Linked DNA regions of Homo sapiens: region 1 is linked to region 2. The links come from fine-mapping of genetic effects on gene expression. A gene starts in region 2. The other region holds a variant in brackets. All regions are shown on one strand. Distances are between the middles of the regions. Region 1 overlaps DESI1 (desumoylating isopeptidase 1). Region 2 holds the start of PMM1 (phosphomannomutase 1).

Region 1 (2,907 bases), 24 kb before region 2:
GTTTCACCATGTTAGCCAGGATGGACTTGATCTCCTGACCTCGTGATCCGCCCGCCTCAGCCTCCAAAAGTGCTGGGATTACAGGCGTGAGCCACTGCATGTGGCCTGACCAGTGGTTTTCAAATGCTCTTTAGCTGTGAAACTCTTCCTTGAAATGAAATCTTCTGCAGATATGCATGTGGAAAACAGGTGAAAAGGAACTTTTTTGTTAAAAAAAAAAAAAAGAAGAAGAAAACAAGGTGGGGTGAGGTGGCTTATGCCTGTAATCCCAGCACTCTGGGAGGCCAAGGCGGGTGGATCACCTGAGGTCAGGAGTTTAAGACCAGCCTGGCCAAGATAGTGAAACCCCATCTCTACTAAAAATACAAAAATTAACTGGGCACGGTGGCGCATGCCTGTAATCCCAGCTACTCGGGAAGCTGAGGCAGGAGAATCGCTTGAACTCGGAGGGCAGAGGTTGCAGTGAGCCGAGATCATGCCACTGCACTTCAGCCTGGGTGATAGAGTGAGACTCCATCTCAAAAAAAAAAAAGGATGTAGGCCGGGCACAGTAGCTCACACCTATAATCCCAGCTACTTGGGAGGCTGAGGCAGAAGAATCACTTGAACCCCGGAGACGGAGGTTGCAGTGAGCCGAGATCACGCCACTGCACTCCAGCCTGGGAAACAAAGTGAGACTCTGTCTCAAAAGGAAAAAAGAAAGGATGTAAATTCACTCAATTCATTTTTAATGTTATTGTTGGCTCCAAGTGTTTGGTGGATGAATGAATAAGTGAAAGAATGAACAGGCTGGGTGCAGTGGTTAACCCCTGTAATCCCTGCACTTTGGGAGACCGAGGCGGGTAGATCACAAGGTCAGGAGTTTGAGACCAGCCTGGCCAGCATGGAGAAACCCCGTCTCTACTAAAAATACAAAAAATTAGCCGGGCATGGTGGCGAGCTCCTGTAATCCCAGCTACTCGGGAGGCTGAGGCAGGAGAATTGCTTGAACCCGGGAGGCGGGGGTTGTAGTGAGCCATGATTGCACCGCTGCACCCCAGCCTGGACAACAGAGCGAGACTCCGTCTTAAAAAAAAAAAGAAAGAATGAATAAATAAGGGGATCTTTTTTCTATAGTCCCTATCTCCACTCTATGAATGGATGAGATCCTAAGTGTACCTTGATGCAGTTGAATAGGAAGTGTGGCGTGTAGCTTACAGGCAAATTCAGTGATGATACAAAGGATATAAAGGAGAATAAAGTAGGGTTTGTATCCTGCAACTTTTGAGTTGTTTTTCAGGTGTGAAATAACTGAGGCCCCTCTTCAAAAATCTGTTTAGTAGGAATGGGTTTGAGCTGATGATACATCCATACCTGCCAGCTGTACTCCTGAGTCAGTGAGCATGCGCATCTGAGAAGACAGCAGTAGACTGGGAGTGCAGTATGCCAGGGTGGCAGAGTCATTGCAATAACAAGCCAGG[C/A]AGCCCAGATTGGGGTTAGGAACTTTGTCCTCAATAGCACTGTGTGTCAACCAACAAAGCTAACTAAACAGAACAGCTCATCTCAACAGATGTTCATGTCACATCTCAGGACCAGGTCCTTTGCTAGGTGCTGGAGTTATAAAGATACATAAGAAACTGTCCTGGTTACTGAGGCAACTGTAGTCTAACTGGGGAGAAGGACACGTGAATAGTTTCAATACCAGGGTACTATGAGAACAACTATAAAACTTTCAAATTATAAACCCTAGAAGAAATGAGTTAGCCTTTATTGGGCATGTATTATGTCCCAGACCCTGTGCTACGCATGTGTCATGTATCGTCTCTTTTAATCCTGGAAATGTTATGAGGCAGGCAGTGTTATTATGCTTTTTTTTACAGAATAGGAAACTATAGTTTAAACAGTGCGTCCAATAGAACTTTCTGCAGTGATGGAAATGTTCTAGATCTGCACTGTCCAGTAAGTAAACACTAGTCACATGTGGCTATTGAATACCTAAAATGTGGTTAGTGGAACTGAGGGACTGAATTTGTGCATTTATTTAACTTAAATAGCCACATGTGGTCAGTGGTCACCATATTGGACAGCTCAGGCTTAGTGTTCTCAGCCTCTGCAGTGTTCTCTGTGATCTGGTCCTCCATTACCTCTGGTCATCTTCTACTTCCCCTCCTCACCCATTCTAACTTCACTGGCCTCCTTACAGGCCTTCAGATAAACCTGGCATGTCATTGCCCCTGCATCCCTCTTTCCCTTGCCTCCTTTAAATCTTGGCTCAAAGCTGGGCCTGGTGGCTCACGCCTGGAGGTGGGAGGATCACTTGAGCCCAGTAGTTCAAGTCCAGGCTTGACAACATAGGGAGACGCCGTCTCAAAAAAAAAAAAAAAAAAGTAGGCCTGGGTGGTACACATATAGTCTCAGCAACTGGGAAGCTGAAGTGGGAGGATCACTTGAGCCTGGGAGGTCAAGGCTGCAGTGAGCTTTGATCGCGTTACTGCACTCCACCCTGAGTAGCAGAGCAAGACCCTGTCTCAAAAAAAAAAAAAAAATCTTCACTCAAATATCACATTCTCAAAGAGGCCCACCCTGATCATCCCTGAAACTCCCTTAACCTACTCTTTTTTTTTTTTTTCTTTTTTTGAGACAAGAGTTTTGTTCTTGTCGCCCAGGCTGGAGTGCAGTGGTGCAATCGCAGCTCACTGCAACACCTCCCGGGTTCAAGTGATTCTTCTGTCTCAGCCTCCCGAGTAGCTAGAATTACAGGTGTGTGCCACCATGCCTGGCTAATTTTTGTACTTTTAGTAGAGATGGGGTTTCACCATGTTGGCCAGGCTGGTCTCGAACTCCTGACCTCAGGTGATCCGCCCGCCTCTGCCTCCCAAAGCGCTCGGATTACAGGCGTGAGCCACTACGCCCAGACCCCCTTAACCT
Region 2 (2,907 bases):
CAAAAATTAGGTGGGCATGGTGGCACACGCCTGCAGTCCCAGCTACTCGGGAGGCTGAGGCATGAGAACCGCTTGAACCTGGGAGGTGGAGGTTGCAGTGGGCAGAGATCCCGCCACTGCACTCCAGCCTGGGCAGAGCGAGACTCTGTCTCAAAAAAAAAAAAAAAAAAGAAGAATCTGGGAAGGTCTCCAAGCAGGTAGACCCTGAGAGCTGGGTCTTATGTGTGGACAGAAGGAATAAGGCTCGGGGAAGGCAATTTGGCAAAGTCCAAAGCCTGAACAAAGGCCTTCAGGAGATTTCTTTTCTTTTCTTTTCTTTCCTTTTTTTTTTTTTTTTTTTTTTTTGAGGCTGGAGTGCAATGGCGCGATCTCGGCTCACCGCAACCTCTGGCTTCTTTGGAATCAAGCGATTCTCCTGCCTCAGCCTCCTGAGTAGCTGAGATTACAGGCATGCGCCACCACGCCTGGCTAATTTTGTATTTTTAGTAGAGACGAGGTTTCTCCATGTTGGTCAGGCTGGTCTCGAACTCCCGACCTCCGGTGATCCGCCCGCCTCGACGTCCCAAACTGCTGGGATTACAGGCGTGAACCACCGCGCCCGGCTCAGGAGATTTCCTACAGCTCAAAATTTGTAAGGCAAAGAGATGGCCACAAACCTTGTGAGAGTGGATGGGGAGCGACCTCGGCTCTCTTAGTCCCGCCTGGCCCACTAGACACTGCACTGCATGGTAGAGGCCCCGCCCGACCCAGCCCCTTAATCGGCCTGTTGCAATCACTATCAACCCGCCAATTCTGGCCCCGCCCCTGTCTTCCGGGTTCACCCTCTCACTTCCTGCGGGTCCCAGGCTCAGGCCCCTCCTCCGCCTTGTTTGGAGCAATCCAATCGAACCTGGAGGGCTCCGCTCCGCCCTATGCCGCGCTCCCCTCCTCCACGAGCAATGAGAATCAGCTCAGGCCCCGCCCCCGCTTCCGCCCGCCTAGACCACGCCCCTTCTTCATTTGGCCAATCAGGCAGTCCACTGGCCCCCGCCCCCTAATGCCCCGCCCCGTCAGCACTTATCCCTGAGCTGCTTCTGCCGTTGCATCTTCGGGACTCCGCCCCGCGCGCGGACCTGCAGCCATGGCAGTCACCGCCCAGGCAGCCCGCAGGAAGGAGCGCGTCCTCTGCCTGTTTGACGTGGACGGGACCCTCACGCCGGCTCGCCAGGTAGGACCCTGAAGATTGGAAGCTCCCACCGGGAGTGTCACGCGGACACCCCCGAGGCTGAGTGTGGGGTCTGCAGCAGCGTGACCGTGGACACCCGGGGACCGAGTGTGGGATGCGGCGGTACCCGGCCCCCTGACATCCGGGGCCACCCACCGGGAGTGAGGGGACCTGGCCCTCACGTCACTGACCCCGCAGCGTCCTTGCCTGTGTTCTGCTTGGGAGTGCTGGGGTTGGATCCAGTACTGGAGGGAGGAGGCTGCGAGCAGGGGCCTAGCTCCCTCCCTCCCCGGAGGCTGTCACACGCCGCTAAGGCCTGGCTCACGGACGCCCCCGCCTCCTGAGCTGGGGATCCCACCCTAGTTCAGCCCTACGACACACCAGTGGTCGGAGCTGGCTTCTGAACCGGGGTTCCAGGCACACAAGCACACAGCCAAGCGTCAGTCATCATCTGGTGGGAGACAGGGCGTCTCGGAGTCTTCCCACCCCGACCTTTGCAGGCCTGGGACTGGGTCTAGTTTCTGAAGCCCCATCACCCACTTTACCTTCCACCCCCAGTCGTGGAGCAGAGAGGGCTTCTTTTCAAATTCGTTTATGAGCTCTACCCACCCGGATGTGAGAGGCTCCAGGCCTAGCCTGTTTGCTGTGAGGACACTGAGGAATAGTGAGGGTAAGAGTCTAGTTTTCTTCTAAAGACTCTCGCTGTGTTGAGCCTCTTACCTCTGCTCAGTTTTTCTCCCATTGGGTCTCATTGTGAGTGAGTCCCCAAAAGCCCCCTCACCAGCTGGATGCATCAGTAAGCAGGCTTCATTCATGCCCTCCCTGTGGGTAACCCACCCTCCAGTCTGGGGGCCTCAAGGACCAACCAACAGGTCTCCTAGCGTGGGGGAGCAGTGGGATGGGCTTTACTGGGCAGTGGCTGATGGGAACCCAGGTCTTAGCCTCCTCTCTTAGGTCCCGAATGCCCCTCCCCATCCTCTGTGGTGAAGTTGCCCTGGCTTGGGCCCTGGAGGCCTTCCTGCAGGGGTGGATCCGGGAGGAAGATAGCAGGACTGGAGCAAAGGTGGGCCATTTGCTTGTGGGTCACGCCTGTAATCCCAGCACTTTGGGAGGCCATGGTGGGCAGATCACCTGAGGTCAGGAATTCTAGATCAGTCTGGCTAACATGGTGAAACCCCGTCTCTACTAAAAATACAAAAATTAGGCTGGGTTCAGTGGCTCACGCCTGTAATCCCAGCACTTTGGGAGGCCGAGGCAGACAGATCACGATGTCAGGAGTTTAAGACCAGCCTGACCAATATCGTGAAACCCTATCTCTACTAAAAATACAAAAAATTAGCCAGGCGTGGTGGCATGCACCTGTAATCCTAGCTAGTCGGGAGGCTGAGGCAGGAGAATCACTTGAACCCGAGAGGCAGAAGTTGCAGTGAGCCGAGAATGTGCCATTGCACTACAGCCTGGGCGACAGAGGGAGACTCAGTCTCAAAACAAAACAAAACAAAAAGTAGATGGGCGTGGTGTCGTGTGCCTGTAGTCCCAGCTACTGGGGAGGCAGAGGCAGGAGAATCGATTGAACCCAGGAGGTGGAGGTTGCAGTGAGCCAAGATTGTGCCATTGCACTCCAGCCTGGGCAACAAGAGTGAAACTCCGTCTCAAACAAACAAATAAATGAATAAAAGAACTGGAACAAAAGTGGCAGGGCC

The links. PIP is the estimated chance that this variant, and not a neighbour inherited with it, causes the effect. A credible set is the group of variants that fine-mapping cannot tell apart.
Region 1: its variant is the best candidate, but not a certain one, in a credible set for the expression of PMM1 in whole blood (INTERVAL, PIP 0.74).

What each region holds. Positions count from the first base shown.
Region 1 is chr22:41,612,216-41,615,122 of GRCh38, reverse strand. All of the region lies in intron 1 of DESI1 (desumoylating isopeptidase 1), which reads left to right. Among named protein-coding and RNA genes, the nearest start is that of DESI1, 7.4 kb to the left of the region's middle. The variant C/A (reference allele first, on the strand shown) is at 1,461.
Region 2 is chr22:41,588,019-41,590,925 of GRCh38, reverse strand. PMM1 (phosphomannomutase 1) reads left to right here and starts at 1,086. Exons shown (of 8, transcript NM_002676.3): 1 at 1,086-1,207. The coding sequence starts at 1,121. RefSeq lists a silencer at 738-887 and an enhancer at 1,282-1,961.